2 separate regions of the Homo sapiens genome follow, and region 1 is linked to region 2. Evidence: fine-mapped expression QTL. A gene starts in region 2. The other region holds a variant in brackets. All regions are shown on one strand. Distances are between the middles of the regions.

Region 1 (8,000 bases), 88 kb before region 2:
GAGTAGCTGGGACTACAGGCATGCGTCATTATGCCTGGCTAGTTTTTAATTTATTTTTTGTAGAGATAGGGTTTTGCTATGTTGCCCAGGCTAGTCTTGAACTCCTGGCTTCAAGTGATCCTCTTCCTTGGCCTCCCAAAGTGTTGGGTTTACAGGCGTGAGCTACCACGACTGGCCCCAAACATTTAAAAAGTGATCTGGCATCTTTCTGTGCAGTCAGGTACCTGCAACATTTTTTGTGGAGAGAGGCACCCTCGGCCTGGAATTTTACTACCTAGTCGGAGATAGGTAACATCTTACTCTCACCTAAGTCTTACTCCTCTGACTTACTTAGGTAAACAAATACAGGCACTTGCTTACCTAAAACCTTTACTTTGCCCTCCCTATTCCAGATCAAAGAAATAAATTCCTGAAGGGACTGTTTTGGGTACCAGTCCCCGGATTGATCAGAGCCTCTTACAGGTGTGCGTTTTCTGCAGAGTCGACTGGATGCTCCTGTACCAGGGCATGGTGGTGCTGGCCGCTAGCCAGGTGTGGTGGACCTGGGAGGTGGAAGACGTCTTCCACAAAGCGCAAAAAGGGGAGAAGCAGGCCATGAAGAACTATGGCAGGAAAATGCACCGGCAGATCGATGAGTTGGTAACGCGCATCACCATGCCGCTAAGCAAAAACGACAGGAAAAAATACAACACTGTTCTCATCATTGATGTGCATGCCAGAGACATAGTTGATTCTTTCATAAGAGGCAGGTGAGCATTTTCCGGGGTCACTGGCATTTCAAAAGGGACCCTTTGTGGTCCGCTGATCTGTCTCAACGGTTTCCACTTCCTCCACCTTTCTTGCCGTCCAGTATCCTGGAGGCCCGAGAGTTTGACTGGGAAAGTCAGTTGCGGTTTTATTGGGACCGGGAGCCGGATGAGCTGAACATCCGCCAGTGCACGGGAACCTTTGGCTACGGCTACGAGTACATGGGCCTGAACGGCAGGCTGGTCATCACGCCCCTCACCGATCGGATTTACCTGACGCTCACCCAGGTGACTGCCAGCCTGGCACTTGTGGTTACCACTTACCTTGGGGCGGGGCATTTTCTCTAAGCTTGAGGTGTGATGACTGCAGTGATTGAAATAGCAGGGGAGATCATTGCTTTGAAATCTCGAAAAGCTTTTCCATTTGGGATGTGACCAGATTGTCACCATTTGGGATTGGCATGTAAGTGTGGCCGTGCTTAGCCACTGGTACACTGGTCCCTAGGTAATGGTGTGTCAGGGGTATTGGTAGAGGCCAATGCGAAAATGCAGGAATGTCAAAGGTGGTGACTGTTAGGGCAAGTGTGATGTGGTTTTGCACGTCTTGTGACAGCTTTTATTCCAGAATATATCCGTTCAAGTGAACGGCCTTGGATGATAGAGATAGTGTCTCCCTCCAGGACAGAGGGTAAACTTGTTTGTTGTACAGGAAATGAAGATAACACTTCCATCCAGGCAGAGCTTGGGAAGGTTTGCAAGCAACCCCCAAGACTGTTTGTCAGATGCTTGCTAGTTTTCTTTTTTTAAATTAGAGATGAGGTCTTGATATGTTGCCCAGGCTTGCCTTGAACTCCTGGCCTCAAGTGATCCTCCCACCTTGGCCTCCTGAGTAGCTAGGACTATAGCATTCACTGCTGCACCTGGCTACATTGGTGGTCTCTTAGGCTCACAGTTTCTCAGCTGTGACTCATACCCACTGTGGATGTGGCATGCACCTGGGCCCGTCTCCACATCACACCATGGGATTTGGGGGGACAAGGATAAAGGGAATGAGTGAGAACAGGAAGCCCCTGCTGCCTCCTGTGCTGTGAGTGATAAAGTCCTTTGTTTTTGAGAAAAAGAGTGTCATCTTATCTGTATTGGTTAGGGTTCCACAGAGAAATAGAACCAATAGGACATAGCTAGCTAGCTGGATGGCTGTCTGTCTGTCTGTGTATCTATCTATCTATCTAATCTATCTATCTTATCCATCCATCCGTGCATCCATCCATCTACATATCCATCCATCCATCCATCCATCCATCCATCCATCCATCCATCCATCCATGTATCTATCCATCCATCCATCCTATTATCTATCTATCTATCTATCTATCTATCTATCTATCTATCTATCTATCCATCCATCCATCCTGTCTATTTATCATCTCGATCATCTATTTTATCTATCTATCTATCTATCTATCTATCTATCTATCTATCTATCTGGATATTTAGGAGGAGATTTATTATGAGGTATTGACTCATGTGATGATAGGGTCTGATTACTCTCACAATCTGCCATCTGCAAGCTGGAGGACCAGGAAGGCCAGTAGCATTTGAAGTTCTGACAGTGAGAGAGCCAATAGTGTAGACTCGTGTCTGGGTCTGAGGGCCTGAGAACCCGAAGTGCCAAGGGTAGAAGCCCAGTGCCCTGGCTCAGTCAGTCAGGCAGCACCAGTGTAACCTCCCTCCATCCTTCTGTTCTGTTCAGTCTTCAATGGATTAGATGATCAGGCAGCACCAATGTAACCTCCCTCCATCCTTCTGTTCTGTTCAGTCTTTAATGGATTAGATGAGGCCCACCCACTTTGGGGAGGGTCATCTGCTTTTCTCAAATGCTAATCTCTTCCTGAAACACACTCATGGACACTCCCAGAAATAATGTTTAGCCAGCTACCTGGGCATCCTGTGGCCCAGTCAAGTTGACACATGAAAGCAAACACCACATTCTTTCTCTATTCTGCACCTATAGTCACAGTGATGAATTTGGAAATGACACCCACTTCCTTCTGTGCACCAGAAAACATATGTTTTGCATTTGGCTTATAACAGGCGCTGTCCATGTATCTAGGTGGGGCCCCCGCCGGCCCAGCAGGAACCGGCAAAACCGAGACCACCAAGGACCTGGCGAAAGCCTTGGGCTTGCTCTGTGTTGTCACCAACTGTGGCGAAGGCATGGATTACAGGGTAAGGCCTGGCTGTCACCTTTGGTACTGGCTCATTAGGCAGAGAGCTTAAAGCAGGACATGGCATTTCACCTCCTAGTCTTTGACATGGCGACAGTGGAAGAAGCTAGTAGAAAACCTTCCACCACCACAGCCCCAGAACCTAAGTGTGTCTGCTTAAAGACCCTGCTTTGTTAGCAGGATGTAGAGCAAGAGTCCCGGATTCACTACCCTAGTAGGGTCAGGTTGATAATGTACGTGAGTAAAGCGGCCAGCAGACAAGAGAGTGGTGGGATCTGTGGCTAACTGGAGAGCAAAAGTCCATCTAAAGAGGGTGCCCGTCCAGCTTTGGTTCATAATCACCATTTGGGAAAGTGGACCCAGCATTGCTAGATTTTCCCACATTTCAAGAGAAGAGAAGAGAAATGGAGTTTTACACAAAAATCTGGATTTGTAAAATCCCAAGTAGGAGCCAGCCCATGAGGGGCCTTGGAAGTCCTGCCAGAAAAATCCACTAGTCAAGTGGCTGGTCACCTGCTTCTCTGCCAATCAGTGATCTCATTGTTTGCTTTAATTTAGAAAATATATCCATAAATGTGTTGCTTGCAGTTTTAAAGATGAAAATTGCCCTTGTCCTGACATGTCTTTCTTCCTAGGCCGTGGGGAAGATTTTCTCTGGCCTGGCACAGTGCGGGGCTTGGGGCTGCTTTGATGAGTTTAATCGAATCGATGCTTCTGTGCTCTCCGTGATCTCCTCCCAGATCCAGACGATCCGAAATGCTCTGATCCATCAGTTAACCACGTTCCAGGTGAGACACATGAAGCCCCCGGGACCATGTCCCTAGGATGGAAGTTTGCCAAGTATGGTAAGCTTCCTCTGTAGCGTCAGTTTCTGGGC[C/T]GTTGACACTCCAGACCAGGCTTCCTGTAGAAGATCTGTTGGTTTTTCCAATTGAGATGATTGGGTTTCCAAAATTATCATCATTGATGATAAGGTTTGTAATAGTCCAAGGACTTCACACTGACTCCAGACACAGAACCAATAGTTATGAATGGGCGTGGGGCAGAGTTCTCAAATAAGTGATGTGCAGGGTCCCCTAGAAAGGAAACAATATTCTTGGCGACTTCCCAAGTTTGAGAAAACCTGACTTAGAAAGCGAATGTTCCTTGCAATCATTATCACAGTGAACAAGAAATTTTGCCTTCATACCTTGTGAAGTTACGGCATCATAACAAGCAGGATTTGCAAGGTTATCAAAGTGAGAAGGCAGAATTTTAAAACAATTGTTGAGAATTCACCAATTTCTCTCTGCCAAAGAATATGTTTGCAGACTTGAGTTTGAGAAGTCTGCATTAAATTACACCAGATTAAGCTGGATCCAAATTTGGAGAAACATGATCTTATTATGTAATCTAGGTGGCCCAGAAGGGGATTCTCTGAAAACACAGGACCAGCGTGGGTGGGCCATTTCCCTACACCGGGGTCTTCTGGGTCCCTTGCTGTCCTTCTGCCTCTGTCCTCCCCCCTCCATGCCCTGCACACTTGTCACTAAGCCACTTGCTCCACAGTCATACCATGCCTTGTGACACCACATGTGTCCCCATCTGAGTGGAATTGTCCCTTCTTCCCTTCACTGGAAAACTCCTATACATCCTTTAGAGCCCCATTCCAGGATGAAAATTCAGCTTGAGCTGGTGGCCCTGTCATCTCACATGCGTCCTCCTCAGATCTTGGCAGGGCTCACTGTTAAGAGATTGTGTCAGCTGGAGACTGTTCAATATTTTCAGGATTCCAGTAAAGGGTCTGGATAGATTTCCCTTTGATGAGTTCTTTTGAGGGATTTTTGGGGCTGAGCTGACTGCTCCCGAGAGAGGGAATTAACCTGCAATGTATATAGATTTCCAGAAGCTGTGTTTCTCAGAGCCAGGAGGCAGCAGCTATCTGCTCTTCCCCCTGGGCCATCTGGGCCATCTGGGCCTCTTGTGGGATACTGAGGCTAGGGATGGTCTCAGGGCCGACCTATGAGTCAAGGCAGTGGCCTTGTTTTGGGGGAGGCTGGCTGTCTTCCGGGCTGCCCTCTCGTTGGTGATGCAGACTGTGCCTCCTAACAACAAAAATTTTCTGTCCTCTGCCTGGCTGGTGGACAATCAAAAAAAATAAAATAGAAAACTTCACCGAGAGACGACCGGACTCAACCTTCAGCTAAAAAGGCTAAGAATATAGGGATTTCCGTGGTTTGTTGGTACCTGGGGCAACCAGAGGAATGAAGACTGGTTTCTTGAGGGGTTTGAGGTGGGATTCTTTAGGCAGGAGTGACTGCATGAAGTCCAGGCACCCGCAGAAGGTGCAAAGCCAGGTGAGAGGAATGGAAGCCGGCGCTGTGTGAGGTGGTGGGCTGGGCGCTCCCAACCTGGGCTGTCTCCTTTCATCGCCACAGCCGTGCCACGAGGTGGGTTGCATTTCTGTTGTGCAGAAAAATAAACTGAGACTCAGAGAGGTTAAGTGACCTGCTGAGGGTCACACAGCTTCTTGTATCAGCCCCAGACTCTGTGCTTCGCCAACCTGGGCCCCTTCTCCAAGGTAGTGCCCTGGGTTCAGGTCTGAGTTTGGGGTTCCACTGAGACCTGCCCTCCCCAAGGCCTTCAGCGAGGGGGGCCCTGCATTGAACACCGGGGAGGGAAAAAGAGACAAGTGGTGTTGTCAGCCTCATACCATGAAAATGAATCGCCACGCAGCTCGCCGCAGGCCCCCTTTCCAAGGGGCTGGCCGGCCGGGCCACCTAACTGCTTCTTTCTTTCTTCCTTCTTGCCCTCCAGTTTGAAGGGCAGGAGATTTCCCTGGACTCCCGCATGGGCATCTTCATCACCATGAACCCCGGCTACGCAGGCCGCACGGAGCTGCCCGAGTCGGTGAAGGCGCTGTTCAGGCCTGTGGTCGTGATCGTGCCCGACCTGCAGCAGATCTGTGAGATCATGCTCTTCTCTGAGGGCTTCCTGGAGGCCAAGGTGGGGGGCCTTGGCAGCGCCAGGTCGTGCAGTGCAGACTTCACCCGGGTCTGCTTCCAGACTGGGGACCTAGGACGCGTTAGCTCCGTGTGGCTCTTCCAGACGGGACCTAGGATGTGTCAGCTCCATGTGGCTCTTCCAGATGGGACCTAGGATGTGTTAGCTCCGTGTGGCTCTTCCAGACGGGACCTAGGATGTGTTAGTTCCATGTGGGTCTTCCAGACTGGGGACCTAGGATGTGTTAGCTCCATGTGGCTCTTCCAGACTGGGGACCTAGGATGTGTCAGCTCCATGTGGCTCTTCCAGACTGGGGACCTAGGATGTGTCAGCTCCGTGTGGCTCTTTGATTTTTGTTTTTTTTTTCTGCTGTGTCTCTCTTCTTCCTCCCCCACCTCTTTTTAAATTATAACTTTTAATTTTGGAATAATGTAAGATGCACAAGAGGTTGCAACAATAGTAGCACGGACTTTCCAGGTGCCCCTTCCCCATGAGAACATCTCACATAGCCACAGTCCATTGCCCAAACCAGGGAGTTGGTGTTGGCACAAGTGCCATTAACTCAGGTGTAGACGTTGTGTGGATTTCACCAGGTTTCACATTCTCTCTATGGCGTGTGCGTGTAGTTAGTTCTATGACGTTTTATCACATGTGGATGGGAGTGGCCGTCACCACATCAGGATACAGAACTATTCCATCACCACGACCACAAAGAAGAGAGACAGGGTCTTACTCTGTCACCCAGGCTGGAGTGCAGTGGTGGGATCACAGCTCACTGCAGCCTCAAACTCCTGGGCTCAAGTGATCTTCCTGCCTCAGCCTCCTGAGTATTTGGGACCACAGGCAGATGCCATCACACCTGGCTAATCTTGCTTATTTTTTGTAGAGACAGGGTCTCTACAGCCCAGGCTGGTCTCGAACTTCTGGGCTCCAGTAATCCTCCCACCTCAGCCTCCCGAGTAGCTGGGACTACAGGTTGTGCCACTGCACCCAGCCTCATGTTACTGCTTACTAGACACATTCTCCCCTCAACCCTAACTCCTGCAACCCCTGATCTATTCTTCAGTCAGTGTAATTTTGTCACTTTGAGAATGTTCTCTACCTGGAGACATGTAGTATGGAACCCTTTGAGACGGGCTTCTTTCACTCAGCACAATGCCTTTGAGAATATGTAGATTCAAAAACAACTTTATGGATAACTTTTATCCTCTTTTAAGCTATCTATAAAATGTACATACGTAAGATCTTTCCAGAAGCTCTGGAAAAGTTACAAAATAGAGAATACTTTTAACATAGAGGGTTGTCACATTGCGTTTCTGCAATATGTCTTTTATTGAAAGCTCTTGGTGCCTATTACCGTGTCAGGATTTTGAGTTGGCACGATGAGATCTCTTGTTCCTAGTTTTCACGACTAAAATTGCCACACTTGCCTTAGAGACCTGTGGGTTTTGAACCCTTGCCATAGATGAGGTGGCTGACTTGTCCTCAAAGACATTTACAGCCTTTTTTTTTTTTTTGAGATGGAATCTTGCTCTGTCACCCAGGTTGGAGTGCAGTGGTGTGATCTCAGCTCACTGCAACCTCTGTCTCCCAGGTTCAAGCGGATTCTCCTGCCTCAGCCTCCCAAGTAGCTGGGATTATAGGCATGCGCCACCACGCCTGGCTAATTTTTATATTTTTAGTAGAGACAGGGTTTCACCATGTTGGCTAGGCTGGTCTTGAACTCTTGACCTCAGGTGATCCACCCACCTTGGCGTCCCAAAGTGCTGGGATTACAGGCATGAACAACTATGCTTGGCCCAGTTACAGCCTTAATAATAGGTTTAGGTCAAAATAAAGAAGCAATGTATTTCTGGAGTGTGATTCCTACAGATGGTTCTGTTCTTTAAATTAAGATAGTGAAGATTTTGGTAACACAGATGTTTCTTCAAATTAGTTCCCAATTTGCCATATTTAAAAATGAAGGACCCACCCTGGTATTTCTGGAAGTTAGAGATGGAATTTGCTTATTTGTAGAGCAGCTGCACTGGAACACCTGCCCCCGTTT
Region 2 (11,354 bases):
CTGGGTGACTAAGACCCTGTCTCAAAAAAAAAAAAAGTCACCCTCTAAACAGTGGAAATTAGTCTTGCATGTCTTGGAGACTTTGAGGCTGTGGGCCCTGAGAAAGCACAGGTGGCTGGACAGTGCCACCTCCGTTGTTCTCTGTGATTGCAGAAGCCATCGAGGCCCTCCCGCTTGCCAACACGCCAGAAGTGTTTGGTCTCCACCCCAACGCTGAGATTGGCTATTACACGCAGGCGGCTCGAGACATGTGGGCTCACCTGCTGGAGCTGCAGCCTCAGACAGGTAAACTCTACTCAGGAGGACTTCATTAGTTTGATTGGGGTTTTACGATTGCTTCTTGTAGCCCTCCCACGTTGCTGATGCCTTTCCCAGAACTGGAAGGCTCAGGAGGCTCCGGTTCTGCACGTGGATGCCTTGCTTTCTCTGAAAAGTGTCCTGGTTTTAGGGGAATCCAGCAGTGGTATCAGCCGCGATGATTATATTGGCCAAGTGGCCAAAGAAATAGAAAACAAGATGCCCAAAGTCTTTGACTTGGACCAGGTGAGGAAGCGCCTCGGAACAGGACTCTCCCCCACTTCGGTGGTGCTCCTGCAGGAACTGGAACGCTTCAACAAGCTTGTGGTCCGGATGACGAAGTCTCTGGCTGAACTTCAAAGGGTGAGCCTGTCTCTCATGTGCAGATTACTGCCTAGATACGTGGCACCTGGGGTTCTGATAGAGTCCTGCCCGATTGCTCTTGATTCTAAATAGGCCTTGGCTGGAGAAGTTGGAATGAGCAATGAGTTAGATGATGTGGCCAGGTCTCTTTTTATCGGGCATATCCCTAATATCTGGAGAAGGCTTGCTCCTGACACCTTAAAGTCCCTTGGAAACTGGATGGTCTACTTCCTGCGGCGGTTCAGCCAGTACATGTTGTGGGTAAGTGGCACGTCACCGCCTCCTCTCTGCCGATTCAGGTGTCAGCCTAGACTCCTCAAACCACCTCCCAATCCCCTCTTTCCATTGCCCAGCAGTAACCTCTGTTAAAGTTTATTGGGTGCTCTGGAAATGGTCTGAGATTCTTACAAGCCTATCTGTATCTTTTGTTTTTCCTTTTCTTTTGAAGACTTTGAAGCATACTCTTACATACCCGATTATTTTATCTAAGTGTATATCTTGGCACTTGTTCCATATTAGTACACAGCTAGCTCGTTCTTTTTTAGAGTATGCCATTGTACAAATGTTTCATATCCTTTCTCCTCCTTCTGTATCCTAAAAATATGGTAACTGCCTACATTTCGGTGGTTACCATTTTTTTTTTTTTTTTGCTAATACAAATAACATTCTGGTGCACATGTATATGAATATGCATAGGGGTATATTCCATGGGTAAATTCTGACAGTGGAAGAGTTGGATCAAAGAGCTTGTGCATTTTAAATTTTGATAGCTCTTGTTGGATGGTTCTTAGAAAGGCTGAAACCACAGTCTATGAGAGTGCTTCTTTCCTCACTCCGCTGCAATGCTGCGTTCTTAACATTTTGGATCACTGTCTCCCTGATAGGTGAAAATAATATCTCATTGTTTTGCATGTCTTTAATTATGGTGAGTCTGAGCGTATTTTGCATGCTTTACAGACATTTTGTGTTTGTTTTTCTGTGAATTGTCCTTTTGTATCTGGATTTCATTTTTAGTGAGGTCTCCATCTTTCTCATTGATGTTTAAGAGCTCTTTGCAAATCAAAGAAATTAGCCCTTGGTCTGCCAGTGTTGCAGGTATTTCTCCAAGCTTGTCATAAGTCTTGACTTTGCTTACGGTATTTTTTCCACAGAAAAGCTTTACATTTTTCCGTAGTCAAACCTACAAGGCTTTTCTTTTTTATCCTGGGCTTTGTATTTCCTACTCCACGATATGAAAGCATTCATTGGAGATGTGGCCCAGTACTTTTGTGGTTTTATTTATTTTTATATCTAAATCTTTGATCTACCTGGAATGTGGCAGTCCAGATTGTTTTTCTCAGACAGGCGGCCAGTTGTGCCAACGCCATCTTTTGCCACTTAGGTGAAATATGTCTTTTATCATAAACTAAACTTCCAGGCCAGCTTTGACCTGGCATTGGATGGCAGCCCCAGGCTCCCAGCACTTGTCCTCTCTTCTCTCCAGGTGACCGAGAGCGAGCCCAGCGTGATGTGGCTCTCGGGGCTGCACATCCCTGAGTCCTACCTCACGGCGCTGGTGCAGGCCACCTGCCGGAAGAACGGCTGGCCACTGGACCGCTCCACCTTGTTCACACAAGTGACCAAGTTCCAGGATGCAGATGAAGTGAATGAGCGGGCGGGACAAGGTACCGTCAGCTCGTTAGGGATCCACAGCCTCTCACTTAGGATTTCTCTCCCTGAACCACCTCCAACTCAAAGGGACAGGCATAGCGTGGGCCTAAATGGGCCAGGCCATGTTTGAAAGCCAGCCTGCTGCAAATATTTCCTGTGTCTCTGCACTGCCCATGTCTTAACACCTCTGAGGGTGGATACGGAAGTTTCTCTTCCACTTTCTCCGTTGAGACCTGGGGTCTATGGCAGGGGAGACCTGAACCATGTTCACTCTGCTAGCTCATGGCAAGTGGGCTCCTAGGTCAGAATTAGCTCTTGCAAAAACCATCAGGTGGCTTTCTTGTAACCCCTGACGGGGCCAGGGGCATGGGAGCCACAGAGCAGCATGGACTAACTTGGTTGGAACTCTTTGATTATGCCAGAACTTCAGGTCCCTTAGACATTGGTTACTGACTGTGCAAATGAGAGCTGGAAACTGCTGTTTCCCCGGGTCCATGTTGTCTTAGAGTTCTTTTAACTGCAAGGAACAAAAGCTCTTTTGAGATGGCTTAAGGACTGGGGACTTACGGTAAAGATGCAGGGACTCTCCAGGTCTCAGTGGCAGGGGAGGTGGCAGGTGTCCGGGCCACCACTCTCTCTGGGGCCACAGGAGTGTGTTCCTCTCTTTGCACATCTGCTGGGTCCTCCTCCCCGGAGACCACTTTCTCTGTGAGGCTTCGACTTCCTGCTCCCCAGCCACTTCGGCTCACAGGGTAGCTGGGGTTGCCATGGTGCCCATTCTGACTCTGGGACCATGCATCTTTCTAGCCTGGGGGCCCAGGGTGGTCTAAGTCCGTGGGCCTTGATGCCCCAGGAATGAGGATTCCTGGGGGAGAGGCCACCGCCCCACACCCATTTCTCTGGGCCATGGGGCAGGGCCACAGGGTCTCCTGTCTGGGCTGCTCCTCCACAGAGGGAAGGTGGGCAGGACAGAAATGCTGGAGAAGGGCCTGGGCTGTCCCCAATGCGCTGGGGAGGAGGCCAGCCAGTGGCCTGTGTGTCGCTGTGTGTGCGCCTGATAGAGCCACTCCGTGGCAGGCTGTGCATGCTCCAGTTGTATCCAGTCTCTGCCTTGTGTCCCTAGGATGCTTTGTCTCAGGACTGTACCTGGAAGGTGCTGACTGGGATATAGAAAAAGGATGTCTTATCAAGAGCAAACCCAAGGTGCTGGTTGTGGACCTGCCGATCCTGAAGATCATCCCCATTGAAGCCCATCGCCTCAAGCTGCAGGTGAAGGTCCCAGCCCCTCCTCTCTGACACCAGGGCCCTTCCTCTTCTGACTGTAGTTATGGCTGAGGTGGTTTCCAACAGTCCTACTTTTTAAAACAGGGGTGCCTAAGCTTTATGGGCTGGGGAGAGTCTTGGAGCCGTGATAAAAGCTACGGATAGCTGCTTCCTGGAAAAGGCGCGGCTGTATGTGTGTGTGGATGCCGGTCCTTCCAGAGGTGTCAGGCTCAAGCTGTGATCCTGTGGTCTAGACTAACCAAGGGGAGACTCCCTCCCTTCTTGCAAAATGCTGCAGACATTGCCTGAGTCATAAAGTGGTTCCCGCTGGTGTGGACAGCAGATGTCTTCTGCTCTGCCTGGGCCAGGACCCACTTTTAACCAGGGTGTCAGTGTGAAGCCAGGTCCCCGTGAAGCTGGCGGAGGGTGGCCCTGAGCAGCCCCAGCCTTGTGCGTGTTCTCAGGTGCAGTCTTGCACAGGGGCCCCTGCCTGTCAAGACTTACACTGCACCTCTGCCTTTATCCCTCTGCACCCTCTCTCCGTGGGGGCATCTCACCTGCCTTTCCCTTGCAGAATACTTTCCGGACCCCCGTCTACACCACCTCCATGAGAAGGAACGCCATGGGAGTCGGCTTGGTTTTTGAAGCTGATCTCTTTACCACGAGGCACATTTCTCACTGGGTGCTGCAAGGAGTATGCCTCACCCTGAATTCTGATTAACCTTTGGGTGAAGAAAACTGCTTAATGAATTCGGAGCCTGGGGTTGTCAGAGTGATCGGGTCTGCTGTCATTTCTTGGGGCCTCTCAAGAGGCAGGAGGGGGACTGACACTGATTTTTCATTTGAAATCAGCCACTTAAATCTCTTTCCATACAAATTAACCTGAATGGTTTTGTTTTTAATACTACTTTTTAAAAGGAATTTATATAATCAAAAAGTAAATATTGGAGAGTATTTTAAGATGTGTGGAGTTTTCTTTTCCTTCTCAGAGAAAACACTTGATTAGGCAAAAGTGCCTGGCATACATAGCATTGGCACAAGTGAGAATCCTAATGTAATTTCCAAAGGTGTGTTTTCGATGATCCAGGTCTGTTTCAGCAGATGCTCCTTTTTGGCAAGAAGGGCTGATGATGTCGGGCACAGAGCAGAAGTGACCAGTCACCTGGAGCCACTTCTCCCCCTTCCAGAACTCTCTGGCCCTAGCTTCTTTGGCTCTGACCTGCTACGGCGACTGTGAAGTTGTTGAGCTTAGTGTTTAGTTCCTGCATGAGCTTCTACCCCCAGCCTGCCTGGGTCTGTGTGGGGTCAGGTAAGGACACAGAACCTCCAGGACCAGTGGTCACTGGGCACCCCTTCCCTCTGTGCACCATGAGGCTGGCCTGGAGCCCTGGCTGGCCACCTGGAGGTGAGGGGTGGCTTCACTCCATGAGGGAGGAGAGGGGCTAGCACGGGCAGCACAGTGGGCAGGGGCCATCAGAGGCAAAAGCAGCTTCCCACAGAAGCTCAGGAGCGCAGCACATTCTAAGGACTAGCTCTGGGCCGGGAGGAGGCCGGAGTCGCTTCTGGGACCTGTGATTGCTCTCCCTCCTGCAGTCTCCTAGCCCTCCTTCAGGTGTTTGTTTAATAAAAGACACAAAACAGAAGGAAGGCAGGTTTAGAAAATAAAGTTTGTTGGGATCTTAAACATTTTGGATAAAACTAACAAAAAAATATGAACACACATTCAGGTTGTGGTGCTATGAGGAGTAGCGTCATCTTATTTAGTTCCTTGAGATACACGCACGGCTGCTCGGTGATCGGTGCCGCCCTGGGAAAGGTTGGTCAGGAGGTGACAGGGGTCTCCAGGAGGAGCTCGGGAGGTGACAAGGGTCTCCAGGAGGGAGCAGGGGCTGCTCGGCCAGGCTGCCCTGGAGCTTGAGGATAAGGTCAAGGTTGGTATGTGTTGCTCCGACTTGAGAATGAATTAGGTGTGTGACTGTGTGGCATCGTGAACATCAGTAGTGACGCAGCCGTGGCCTGGGCTTTGCCTGCAGCGCACTTAGGTTACACGGAGCGGGATCAGAAGCAAGCGATTCGGCACACAGGCGTTTGGCCACAGCAATTAGGAAATACATATTCTGCGGCAGGGACACGATCATATTTTGGTGTGAAGAAGAGGGCAAGAGAAGCAGAAGGAGAATGGGTCGGTAGGTGTGAAAAGTGTTTGGCATGCATGGGATTAAACAGAAAAGGTGTGGCTGAGATTTCCCAGTGGTGCTCACAGTGCATGGACAGCGCGGGGTGGGGCACGGCGGGCTTCACACAGTTCTGTCCGTCCCTGAGTGCTTCCTCACCACCTTGCCTCCGTTCACCTGGTCGACCGCCAGGGTCTTCACCTCGGGCTGGGCCTGCGGCGGGGTGGCGTGGTGGATCCGATGTGCCACCCCGACGTGGGCCTTGTGCGGCTTTTCGCGGGCCGGGCTGTGCTGCTCGCCGCTTCGGTCGGAGGCGATGGGGGGGATGACGAGGGGCCTCTCTTTGATGAGGTGGACCTCGGCGGACTCCCTAGCCAGCAGAAATGGGGTGGGGTCGGGCATAGCATCCACTGGTTCCCGCAAAAGGAGTTTCCTGCTCTCTGCCCCGAATCTGTAGACCTCTTCAAATTCCGGGTGCAAGGGGGCTGAGAGGCTCTTTTTCATGCGGCGGCGAGGCGTTTCGGGTAGCTTGTCTTTGGGGGGCGCTGGCTTGTAGCTGGCCAGCACGGGGCTCCCTGACGGGCTGGCATCTGAGGTCCCGCTGGAGCTCATGAGCTTCTTCTTGGCGGCGTGCAGCTGGGAGGTCAGGTAGGCGATGGTGCTGGCCCGCTGCTCCAGCTCGCTAGACAGCAGGGTCAGCTTGTGACTCTTGGCCTTCAGCTCCTCCAGGTACTTCTTCTCTCGCTCCTTGATGGTGTTCTCCAGCACTGTGATCATCGCGTTTTTCTGCTCCAGTTCTTTCAACAACTCAGCATTTTCGTTCTCTTTCACTTTCAGTTGGGCTTCCAGCTCTTCACATCTTTTCTTTAATTCACTGCTTTTAGAAGTCCCGTCTCCTACAAGAATAAGCCGAGGAAGCAGGTGAAGAACTCATTAGACTGAGGCCGAGTGGTGAGGCCTATGGGGCAGGCGGACCTGTCTGGTGGGGGCCCTGTCTAGGCTGTGGGGGCCATGCAGAAGGCAGGGCTGTGGGGGCTCTGGAAAGACCCCTCCCCTCCCCGAGGTGGGGAGATCGGGGCATCTCAGAGGCCCTTTCCGGCTCTTAGTTCTCTGGCCTACTGCATAAAAGAATGTCTCTGAACCTTAAAGATGCTGAACTTAAAACAGGCAATTGCAGAGTATCAGACCTCAGCAAACACTTAGGATTCAACTGGCCGCAAATCCCTCTGTCTGCTCAGATGGCATTTATGGAATGCCTGCTACATTCAAAGTACTGTTTTGAAACTCAAATGTAAAAAGAATTATCCATGTCTATTGAATTAAAATTCTGATGTTTAGAGGAGAAGAGGTGTGGGGCTGTCACCTTTGCTCTGCCGCTGGCCGCCTCTCTCACCCCCCTACCCCCGTCTCTCTCACACACACACACACACAGACTCTTTCCCACTTCCTGCTCAGAGAGTGAGCTGTCTCGCCTCTGTGGCTCTTACCCTTGGTCCCTCCCTGCCCCTGCCCTAACACTTCGGGCCTCTGCCTCCTTTTGCTGTCCCTGGGTGCCTGCCCTCACCCAGTCCTTCAGCAAACACCAGCCACCTCCTTCTCCTGCTCTTCTGGTGACCTGCAGTCCCTGGTCACCTCACATAGCACCCTTGGCTCTAAACCCTGGGTCACCATCCTACTCCTCCTAACGCTGGCTGGCTGGCCATCCTCCTTGCCTGGCCCCTGGGAAGTTCTTTCTAGACTCTTCCTTGCTGGTCTGGAATTCAACTTGAGCATCAGCTCCCGATTCAGTGTCTCCTGAGCACCACTTCTCCAAGTGAGTGTCCGTCAGACACACCCTCAAGTCCAGATAGCTGCTCTGCTTCCCACATCTTGACTCTCCCAGGGAAACTGGATGCAGTCGCCATCCCTGGCCTCCCCTCCCTGACTGTGCCTTTCTGCTGGCTGCTCAGTGCTGCCCCCTCCCTGCTCCTCCAGCCGGCCTTGGTCCCACCTCCTCTCTGGTCTTCGTTTCAGCCCATCCTGTATTTAGGAAGCTTGGTCACCCCCTAAATATTCTTGTCCTCTGTTCAAAATGGTTCCTCACTGCCTAATAAAACCCAAACTGCCAGATGCCTTCCAGTTCCTCAATCTGTCCTGAATGTTATCTGCTCCCACATAAATCAAAGCTTCCATCACTCTCCCCAAGCCACCACCTCTTGTTCTGTCTCTATTGTACCCTCTGTCCTTGCCCTAACTCCAGACCTGCACGCCCAGTTTCCCTGTACCAACTCCACCACCCAGGGCCTGCCTAGGCACTGGACGCCACTGGACGTCTTTCCCGGGCTTCTGTCTGTCTTGCTTTGAATTTTCCCACCTGCCTGAGCTAGCAGCAGCTCTGCAGCATGTCCCGCCGCCAGACTCTGAGCTTTTGAGGGCCCACAGCTGACTGGACTGGTCTTGTGCAGGACACTTGCATGTTACAAGCTCGCTGCAGGTGATGGGCGCTCCTCGACTTAGCATGGGGTCATGTCCCGAAAAATCCAATGTAAGTTGAAAATACCGTAAGTCAAAAGTGTGTTTTCGATATTTTCAGCTTACCATGGGTTTATCTGGACATATCCATGGTAAGTCGAGGAGTGTACTGAATGGGTATTGCCCCATGCAGTTGAAAAATTTTAAGTTGAACCATTGCAAGTTTCTAGTTTTAAAAACCATGTGTCTGTGTGTGTATGTGCAGGTATAATGTCAGCAAATGACCTCCCTAAAAAGGATGCATGCAGTACTACCTTTCATGAGGTTTCTTCTTTTGCCAAAAGGAAAATAGATCCTAAAACACAGTTTCAGAGGTAGAGAGAGGGACAGAGACACACACACGACTCTGTAGACACTGTAAGACCCAGGAGCCCAGCCACCTGGGCTGAACCCCTGCAACCTGAAATGCTGACCTGGGCACGGCATTGGGCCTGGTACCCGCTGTCCTTCCCCCAGGGCCTGTGGGACAACAACCCATGCCTGTCGCAGGGCCTTTGCTTTCAGCCCACACTCGGGTGGACAGTGGGCCTTGGGCTCCTTCCGAGGAAGGGCTGCAACCTCAGACCTTCAACCACATCCCTGGCCTGCTGTGAGCATCCTGGGATTTTTCTTCCCCCAGGCAGTGCTGCAAAAGGCTGATGGACGTTTGGAACATTCAGGAACAAGGCTGTCCCTGGGCTTTGCTCATGTCCTGTGAGGGGCAGCCCACAAAGGCAGAGGGCCCTGGTGGTCGGACTGGGGACTTGGATTTGTGGGGCACCTGTCAGATGAAGATGCAGGTTCAGAGATGTCAAAGAACCTGCCCAAGGCCACACAGCCCCTCCGAGTCAGAGCAGAGGCCCAAATCTGGGGCTCATTAAGCATCACTCTGGTTCTTTTCGCCACAGCATCCTGAGAGAAGCTCCTCCTGGATAGACATCCTCCTCATCATCCTTCCTTGAGAGTCATCTAGCTGTGCTGCCTCCTCCTCCAGGGTGCAGCCTTGGCTCCGGGCTGATGTTTACCGGCCCCGACTTGAGTGGGCCGTCCTGTGGGAAGGAGCTGGTACGACTGCTCCTCCATCCCCAGCTCTGGAGAGCTGCTTCAGTGACTGTCCTTCCCAGGAATCAGCACCTCCTGTTTTGCCAATTTCTTGCTCTTTATAGAAAGCTCCACTCCACCTCCTCCTCTGTACGTACCCCCTTTCTGGAAATTTCAGTCTTCCCATGAAAGCTTGGTGCACACTGAGCTGACAGCAGCCAACTGCTGCTGGTCTCCAAACGCTGCACTGCTGAGCCTGCCCGAGCGTCAGGGCACTGCAACGCTTCTAAACCTGCGCACTCCCTGGGCCCGCCCAGACTTCTGGGGTCACAGCCCCCAGGGGAGGGAAGCCAAGAGTCTATGCTGTACCCTGGGTCCCGAAACTGCTTGGAATTGGGCAGTTTTGGGTGCACTAATGTAAAACAATGATTTTCACCACTGGGAGGGGAGACGCCCCGACTGGAACCACCTGAGAGGCTTTTGAAACTGCCTCCCCTAAGACACAGCCCTTGCTGTGAGACCCTGCTGCTGCTGGGAGTACTACATCAGGTGGGTGGGTGGGTGGGCAGGTGGCCTTGGGACCTCAGGTTGAGAACCGTGACTGGAGAGGCCACAGGGCAAAACTATGCTGCTTCAGATTAGCCTGGGCCAGGAGAGGACAGGGAGCGAGGACGCCCTGGCTTCCATGACACGGGTAGCTCCTTTCCCAAGGCTTCAGTGCTGGCAGGTGTGGACGCTGGAGGTCCCTAGTGTCAGGCTGAAATCCTGTTCCTCTGCATTCCCACAGGCCCAGCTCCCAGTCCCAGGGCTTCGGGGGAGGTCCCTGGTATCCCTCCACAGGGAGACTTCTGAGGACAGGCTCCCATTCCACCACCCCAAGAAGCCCACGGCGCCTTCCCTACCACACGCAGACAAAAAGATGTCTGGGCTCCTGGGTGGCGCACTCAGGAGGCTGTAATATGAGCAATGCAAATGGAAAAAAATCAGTGCTCGGTAATCCACTAAGGCTTGGTGGAAATGGTCTGTGTCTTTTACAAGGAACTGGACACTCTCATGAATAGTAACTGCCATTGTGAGGCCTGTTTAGAAAAAGGCATTGTGGGGAATGGAGAAGTTCTTCAAAGTTTCTTGAAACCATAAAGAGCTTGTCATTTCCTTGCTCTATGTATATCTCTATATATGTTCCAGTGTAGCTGCTCCGCCTTGCCCCGGCACGCCTGCGCAGGGCTGAGCGAGCCCTGGACCATAGTGCATGCTCTTCCTTATTTGGAAACTCTCCTGACCCTCTCATGACTAGCTTCCTCTTTTCTTTGTCCTCTTTCCCTTTTGCCTATTTAGGAAAGTTTCAAGCTGTTAGCCAATCGGGTCAAGCTTAGAATGTGAGGTCCCATTCCAGTCAATGGAAACTGGACACAGTCATAGGGCAATTGCATCAGGTTATGAAGATTATAAATGTCCTCGTCTCCTTTGTTTGAGTGTGCTCTCGTGGTAAGACTGCTGGCGAGTTGCACCCTTTCTGCAGAAAGTAAACTAGCCTTGCTGAGCCATCCATTGCCTTCCCGACGTGATAAACCCGTTTCCAACAGGTGTCTCTGCACAAACATGGATTCAGCACTTTCCAAACACCCACCCTGTTTTAGGGAGCAGGCTCTTTGCAGCAGGCACAGAGGGCCCTGGGAAGGCCTGGGTTTCTGTCTCTTCTCTGGCGGCCAGCAGGCAGCTGCCCTTTGGGGTTTCCTGAGGTCCTGGAGGATTCTGGTTTGGGGAGGGTTCTGGGGCTGTAGTCCAGAGAAAGCCCCAGATCCTCAGGGAGCTGTCTAGTAATGTGACCACTCGCCCGCCAGCATTTAGCAAGCTGCTGCTCTGTGCCAGGCCCATGCTAGGCGGCAGCGACACGGAGGAGCGGGGGCGGTTCTGCCCAATGCTGCTGCTGCTGTTACTCCTCCTTTTGGGTTTAACTCACGTCTATTTTTATGTCCTGATTACACAAGGAACACATGTTCATTGTAGGAAAATCAGAAAAACATATAATAGGCATTCCAAATATATGTGTCATTCAAAAGAAAACAAAATCAC

The links. PIP is the estimated chance that this variant, and not a neighbour inherited with it, causes the effect.
Region 1: its variant is the best candidate, but not a certain one, in a credible set for the expression of DNAH10OS in whole blood (TOPMed, PIP 0.62).

What each region holds. Positions count from the first base shown.
Region 1 is chr12:123,845,121-123,853,120 of GRCh38, forward strand. It overlaps DNAH10 (dynein axonemal heavy chain 10), which reads left to right. Exons shown (of 79, transcript NM_001372106.1): 31 at 480-749; 32 at 851-1,034; 33 at 2,841-2,975; 34 at 3,610-3,762; 35 at 5,768-5,956. Among named protein-coding and RNA genes, the nearest start is that of DNAH10OS, 86 kb to the right of the region's middle. The variant C/T (reference allele first, on the strand shown) is at 3,852.
Region 2 is chr12:123,931,188-123,942,541 of GRCh38, forward strand. It overlaps DNAH10OS (dynein axonemal heavy chain 10 opposite strand), which reads right to left and starts at 3,797. Exons shown (of 2, transcript NR_187476.1): 1 at 2,878-3,797. DNAH10 (dynein axonemal heavy chain 10) reads left to right here. Exons shown (of 79, transcript NM_001372106.1): 74 at 154-285; 75 at 449-660; 76 at 754-921; 77 at 2,144-2,324; 78 at 3,434-3,579; 79 at 4,148-4,527. The coding sequence ends at 4,294. CCDC92 (coiled-coil domain containing 92) reads right to left here. Exons shown (of 5, transcript NM_025140.3): 5 at 4,439-6,643. The coding sequence ends at 5,871. RefSeq lists enhancers at 6,862-7,362, 7,363-7,863.